2 linked regions of the Homo sapiens genome follow. Changing the gene in region 2 together with the main gene of any one other region gives a genetic interaction. Each region holds a gene or a part of one and is shown on either strand. Other genes may lie near its edges. The genes, in order: CTNNBL1 and FARSB.

Region 1 (3,823 bases), on a different chromosome or scaffold from region 2:
CTGCTCACTACATGCTAAAGTGTTTTTCTAGAACCTTCTTCTTTCTTTCCTGTCTTTTTCTTCTTTTTCTTTCTTTCTCTCTTTTTTTTTTTTTTTTTTTTTTTGAGGCAGGGTCTCATGCTGTTGGCCAGGCCAGAGTGTTGGTGCCATCACTACTCACTGCAGCCTTAACCTCCCAGGCTCAAGTGATTTTCCAACCTCAGCCTCCCAAGTAGCTGGGACTTCAGGTGCACACCACCACACCCAGCTAATGTTTGTAGTTTTTTGTAGAGATGAGGTCTCACTATGTTGCCCAGGCTGGTCTTGAACTCCTGGGGTCAAGTGATCCTCCCGCCTCAGCTTCCCAAAGTGCTGGGAGTACAGGTGTGAGCCACTGCGCCTGGCCACATACATTATTTCTAATCCTCACAAACAGCCCTGCCAAGAGGGTGCAGCTATCCCCAATTTACAGATAAAGAAATCCCAGAGAGAGAGGAAATGGTGTTGCCCAAACCACATGGGAACCACGTGAGAGAGCCTGTGAGCATTGGGCCTTGGCATCTTTGAAGCCACCTCCTCTTGCCAAGCTGCTTCTCAGCTGGCACTGCTTTTAGGTTCTGAAGCATTGCAGAGCTCAGCGTTGGGGAGTTATCGGGCCTCATCATTTTGGTTTCCTGATTAGATTCTTCCTTCATGCCAATTTCTCAGTCAGAACTTATATTTTAATTTAAAAATGATGAAGTTATCAGTCTGGTTTTTAAAAACTTACTTTGGTTAAATTGGAAACTCTTAGTAGTGTCTTACAGCAAAAGGTGGAGATTTCCTGTGGAACCAAGAATTCTCAGTAGCAAGAAACTCAGCTGGTCGGTGCCTGTTATGTATACACCAGTTCCCTTAGTACAGCCACTTCATGAGGAAGATATTAATTTGGCCAGTCTCATAGCTGGTAACTGTTAGAGCTCAGATTCTAATGCAGATATTTCTGGTTATGGTTGTCAGAAAAACTTGTGGTACCTACTGTGTGTTAGGTACTTTCATATTATGTTTTTAAATTCTCATAGTAACTCTCCAAATAAGTGGGATTTTTTTTCTATTTCTTTTTTCTTTTTTTCATGTCAGTGCCCTTAATCAAAAAAGTGCTATTTTTTATTTTCATTTTACAGATGAGGAAACTGAGACTGAGAATGTTTCTTGGGTCATAGATTCCCATTGTCAGCTTACAGCATTCTTAGTGTCTCAGTAATTCTGTTTTTACAGCACCGCTATGCCAAAAAGTACCTAATAGTCTCATTTATTAAGTAGTTATGTCCAAACCATTTAATATATATTTATGTCCTTACAATTTATTAGCCATTTGAGAAGATAATACACACAAATTGAAAGAAAAAATATTTTTATTTCATTCTTAAATATCATAGTTACTTCCTAATGGTATGTGTGCCTTTTGGTACTGCTCAAATCCTTAAACCTTAGGATCAGATTGAACGCTACGACCATCATTCTGATTTCACATCGATTTTCACAGTTATTTTTGTCAGAGCAGCTATCCAAACGCAGCTCCACAAAGATATGATGTCACCAGAAGAAATGTAACTTGAGCTCCTGGTTAATGCAGTGTTCAACAGATGTCACATTTCACTGTGTTCTCCTTGAAAATTTAACATATCCTGTGGTGAATTAAATATGACACCCCAGTTGCCACAGCGCAAAGTTGGAGAACTGCAGATTTGAGTCAACCTTAGGTGTGTCTAATGCCAGATCTGTGTTTTATTTTCCTTTTTTAAAATTTGATATTTCTACAAAATTAATTTTAATTCAGTGTAAGGTTTTTAAATGCCACAACAGTGGACAGAGTTCAGATCTAAGTTACCCCTGTTTGTTCTCTTGCTTAATTCTGTGTCTTCCCTATAGCAGGTGCCTAATAAGTATTTATTGAAAGGAAGAAAAACTCCCCCCAACTTGAAAACAGGAGCTTACAAAATTGAATAAAGGACAAGAGGCATTAGATCCACAGAAAGGCCATGGCTCTAGTGACCTACTGTCTTTTGGCTTCTTTCAGTTAAGTGTCTTGTTTTAAACAAGAACCATGGCCCTTGCAATGCTAATGTATAAGTTGGTGTGGCTTAAATCTTTTAAAATATAATAGCAGTACTTGGAACTTACATAATTTGAGTGGGAAATTTTATTCGCAAATCCTTGATTTTGATAGAGATGCTTACTCCTTGGCTTTTCACCTTCATGTTTTGATTTTCGTTAATATGAAACCATTTTTCTTAAAGTGAAACATACCACAGGTTGCATTTAAGCCCTGACTATTATGCTGAATTTCTTGAAACAAGGCTTCAAGCTCGCCCAGGGAGCATACCTTACATTTAGCACATGTAAGACCTTGCATTTATAGATCTTTTAACCTAAGATGGTCATACTTGGTTGACCTCCTGAAACCCTGTAGGCTGCACTTAGCTTGATGAGGAAGACGTGCACAGAAAACTGAAATGATACTGAATATTGCTTGATTAGGTACAACTCTTCCTCTTTAAGTATAAAACCAATATCTAAACAGATCTGTGAATGGCGGTAAGGTGACGGAAGTGTTAGTTCCAAGATAAACACTTCCCTTGTCTTTTCCAAGTACAGAAATTCTTTGTCATTTCAAAAACACAGATAGGTAGCAAAGGTTGCTGCTGATTAATAATCATTGTTTACATGCCTGCATTTTAAGGATCATGGGCACCATAAATAAAAACACACCACTGAGACTCGCTCCTCTCTATGCACCTTTATCCAGGGGGCAGTGATAATGGTGAGATATTTAAGTCTCACTACCGAAGCAACACTGAGGACAGCCATGAAAGATAGTCTGTGCAGTAGATGTGTCCCCTCTGAAACTCCCAAATAGCAGAGCATGCAGCGGGGAAAGAATTGTGGGTAGTAATTTGGGTGTTAAAATATTAACACATTTTTGCATATTTAATGTGGTTTCTGTTTTAAGTAGTAGGCAGATTATGGCATGCAAGCAGATAAGTTTATGATTTCAAATTAAATTTTAAGCATTAAAAAAATCCAGAAGGAACTACTTTGTGATAAATACATTCAGTTAATCAAGAATTGCTTTCTTCTCTGCTCATATATTAACTAATTTATAGCCTAATTTCATGATTGTAACTTGTGAATTAAGCTTCATGGTGAGTTTTAATCTTAAAAGTTCAAAACTCTCATTCATCTAGTTCACATTTGGGTACTATGGGCTAGACATATATAATCTCTGGACTCAAAATGGGAAATCTTGGAAGTCTTCACCGAGGAGGTAACCTTAATACCTGGGCATTAAGAGTGTGAGAGCCATTGTTTCAATCTGTCACTTTACTTGGTTCTGGTCTCTTGAGAGCAGAGGCAGACGTTTTTACCCTTAACTGCCTTTTCCTTTTCTAACTTCTGCTTCTCTCTAACTCAGATCATAGTACTCGTGAAAAATTTGTCCTGGGGAAGGAAGCAAGACCCCTTAACATTTTTCTCATTTCTCCTATTTCCCCATAGGCAAAGATGCCTTTTGATGCCAACAAACTGTATTGCAGTGAAGTGCTGGCCATATTGCTCCAGGACAATGATGGTGAGGCGCCCTCTCAGTATTGATATTCTGTTAGGATAGGAGCCAGGCTTGTTTCAGATCATGACAGCAAGCTCTCTTGCCTTTGGCATCCCCTTGCTCTCCCTCTCACTCCCTGTGCTGCTTTTGTACTCTGTCAAGCTGTATTGATTTTGTTTGCTGATGTATCAGTGTTAGACGGCTGTAAAATCTGACAGTTAGGTTCATTTTTTTTCTTCCTCTATTTTTTTCCCCTTT
Region 2 (3,823 bases):
GTTACTGTAGAAATTTTAAGAGGTTTTGAGTCAGTTCCAGTATAAAAATAAGGCCAAAGTTCTCCTGTAAAATCATCATTAAAAGTACAGAGAAGAGATCTATCATTCAAATTATAAAAGGAAACCTCATTCATTTCACAGTCTAAAAAAATGCCAATCTTACTAGGTGTTACTTTTGGCAGCAGAATAATTTCCTTATGGCCCAATACAATATAATTATTCCGACTAGATTACCAAATTCTCCATAATCCATCCTGTACTAAAATTGGTTGACTCTTCCTCCTTGTGGGAGGAGAGTCACTACAGACACCAAGAATCCATTCAGGCATGTCTTTAACTTCTACTTCCCGGTACTGCCTGCCACAATTTTATCCCTTAGAACCCAGAACAGCTGGGAGCAGATAAAATCTTCTTGGGTTATGAGGTAAGTTTTGTGTTGTATTTCCATATCGCACAGTTTTTCTATCTTCTGAGACTATAAGTTTACGATGTGCTGCTTCAGGATCTAGAATTACATCTACTTGAAATCGCTTGATAATTTTGTTTTGGCCACAATATTGTGGAGACAGATGGTAACCATATTCTTTTAATTTGAATAAAAAAGGTTTAGGGAATTTTAAATTCTTATGTCTGTGATAGATATCCTTAACATCAGCCAGTAATTCCAGTTCTGACTTCACATATATGCTCTCTATCTTCTTTAGTAGATATTTTAATGAGGAGGTATAATCTGAAAATTTTGTTAGGCTTTCATTTAGTTGTGCTAAAATATCCATCTCGTCATCTTGTAATTGCCCAAAAACAGTCTCTTGCTCATTTTGCAGAAATAACCTAAGTTGCTCAAATTCAGACTTGACTTCTTCTGCCGTATGTTTTACCTTTTTCTTCAGTTCCAGTGATTTTCTGGTTTGTATAGTTATGACTTTTTCAATTAGTTCCACTCTCTCCTTCCACGGTGCATTGTATTGCTCCAGTTTTTTCCTGATAGGAGGCAGCCTTCTTTATGGGCCAAACACAGCGATGCTGGTGATCAGTGGACAAACTGCACCTTGGACATAAAAGCTCTAGGTCTTTCTGAGAGAAGAAAGTCAAAACCTGATTATGCTTCTTACACACATGCTTCTCTTCCTGCCTCTTCCTCTTGCTTCTTAGCTGGAGTTGCTTAGCAATTTCAGTCAAACTACCCAGCTGGGGATTGCTTATAAATTTCCTTTCTGGACAGCACAAGTGGCAAAAGGGGCAGGGGAAACTATCATCTAGATCCTTCCAGGACATAATGATGCAGGAGAGACAGAAGTTATGCCCACAGCTGATGGTCACTGGGTCTTTCAAGTAGTCCAGACAGATGGGACAGCTAGCCTCTGCTCGGAGGTCAGCCAGGGCTGTCACAAATTCTACGGAGCCTGGAACAAAGATGGTAGGTAAGGTAATTCTTTTATTTTAGCAAGGCCTAGCTCTCTAGAGCTCAAGACCCACTATGCAGTGGATTCCTCCCCAGACCTTGAAATCTGACCAGCTTTCAGTTTTACTGACTTGGCATGTTGATGGCAGCTTCTAGAAACTTGTTAAGCCCTCAGCTCCTTAGCTTCAGACTTCACAGCCTGCAGCCTATTGCATATTAGAACTTATTAGCTGGGCTGCTGCTCTTCCCACTAAATGAAATAAAGTCAAGTTTTCTTCAAGAAAGCAGCCTCAGGTCCAAGATAAGGACTCCTTCCTGTAATCCCAGCTACTCAGGAGGCTGAGGCAGGAGAATCGCCTGAACCCAAGAGGAGGAGGTTGTGGTGAGCCAAGATCGCGCTGTCGCACTCCAGCCTGGGCAACAGAGTGAAACTATATAAAGCACATTGGGCCAGGCATGGTGGCTCACACCTGTAATCTCAGCACTTTGGGAGGCCAAAGCAGTGGATCACTTGAGGTCAGCAGTTCGAGAACCAGCCTGGCCAACATGGTAAAACCTCGTCTCTCCTTGCATTATAATCACCTGGAGGGCTTGGTAAAAGGTTGCTTGGGCCACATCCCCAGTTTCTGGTTCAGTAGGGCTGGTTTTTTCCTAAGTTCCCAGATGATGCTGCTGGCCTGCGGACTGTACTTTGTGAACTTATGCTGGAGCAGATGGATCAGAAACCCCGGCCAGAGGATGCTCAGGACCCATCAAGCCCCCGCGAGGAAGGACTCAGACCCCCAACCCCACCAAATTAAAGTATGTCTTTAATAGATAATCATTATTAACAATATTAAAATGTATAGCCGACTTGATTTTTTTAAATATTGTAATCATTATACAATCAAAAGTCAAAGAAAATGCTTCCTCATTTTTATAAGCAAGTCCTTAAAAAATATTAGTTCATTTTACAAGACCAATGAATATAGTAATGCATTAGTACTGGTTGAAGAGGCACGGAGGAAGGTTATGGGGGCAGAGGAGCTGAAGGAGGAGGCGCTGGAAGTGAAGGAGGCAGGGTAACTCTGGTTGAAGCAACATTTCTACTGCTTCTTGGTCCCTTTCTGTGATTAATTTGCCAAAGGAGGGAGCTTACTTTCATACTGGGGTTATCTAACACATTCTATCCATTTCCACAGCATGAGCCTGGTAACAAGGTGATTGTAGATGGAATAAGGCATGAACTCCTTTTGAGATTTTAGTCAAGGCAACAGACAGACATGGAGCTTAGCCCTCTGAACACAGAAATCATGGCCCACAAACATTATCACCTTAGTCTAACTATAAGGTAACAAAGATGAAATACAGTATAACCCTGAAAAATAAGCTTATGCACACAATCTTTGAAAAATAGACAAATATCCAATACATACAATTTCATCAAGCTCCAGACCAAATTCAAAACATAGTTCATCAAATTCTTCGTCAGCTAGGAAAATAAAAAAGGAGATGGTTAATTTCACTCTGTTCAGTATAAGTGAAAACTACATACAAACTGCATTTTCTTATTACTAATTGCCTTACACCAATCATACTACTAAATATCAGGCATCACATATTATCATTTAAAAACAAACAGGCCAGGCATGGTGGCTCATGCCTGTAATCCCAGCACTTTGGGAGGCCAATGTGTGTGGATCATCTGAGGTCAGGAGTTTGAAACCAGCCTGGCCAACACGGTGAAACCCTGTCTCTACTAAAAATACAAAATTAGCCAGGCATGGTGGCGCATGCCTGTAATCCCAGCTACTTGGGAGGCTGAGGCAGGAGAATTGCTTGAACCTGGGAGGCAGAGGTTGCAGTGAGCCGAGATCATGACATTGCACTCCAGCCTGGCTGACAAGAGCGAGACTCCGTCTCAAAAAATTAAAAAAAAAAAAAAAAAAAAAAAAAGCTGGGCCAAAAAAATTTAAGATAAAAAAAAGAAAAAACTATTAAAGGCTTGATTAATCTACACTAATATCAACTGTAGTTTAGGTTACCTGCACTGGGAAGTTTGCATGTACACAGAAGAAAAACACCTGTTCACCTGTTAAGTAGAGATCAGATATAAAGTAGGCTCCAAATCACAGATCTCACACAACAGAATGTCACATAAGTCCTATCAGGTAAAATGGTCTGAGGTGGCCTGACACTTTTGGCTTTGAAGCCAAGTCAATCAGAGTTTGAATTCTATCCCACTTATTAGATCTGAGAGTTTGGCACCTTATGTAAACTTTCTTGGTATCTTGTGTCAACATTACAGCTGCCTCATCTATAAAATGGTATTTCACAGCCATTATGGCATGGTACTATTGGAAAGATTTAAATGCTAATGCATAAAATGGACCTGGCATAGTACCCTGAGACACAGTGAGTCTACAATAATTAATAGTTTAT

Evidence for each region.
Region 1: changes in FARSB (region 2) and CTNNBL1 together harm fitness less than expected from each alone (positive genetic interaction), as found in Homo sapiens cells (one large-scale study listed by BioGRID).

Annotation. Positions count from the first base shown.
Region 1 is NC_000020.11:37,773,829-37,777,651, forward strand, and holds part of CTNNBL1 (beta-catenin-like protein 1), read left to right. Parts: intron 1-3,516; coding exon 3,517-3,589; intron 3,590-3,823. UniProt on the Homo sapiens protein: Component of the PRP19-CDC5L complex that forms an integral part of the spliceosome and is required for activating pre-mRNA splicing.
Region 2 is NC_000002.12:222,645,923-222,649,745, forward strand, and holds part of FARSB (phenylalanine--tRNA ligase beta subunit), read right to left. Parts: intron 2,874-3,823; coding exon 2,818-2,873; intron 2,204-2,817; exon of another isoform or gene 1,919-2,203; intron 1,075-1,918; exon of another isoform or gene 879-1,074; intron 425-878; exon of another isoform or gene 1-424.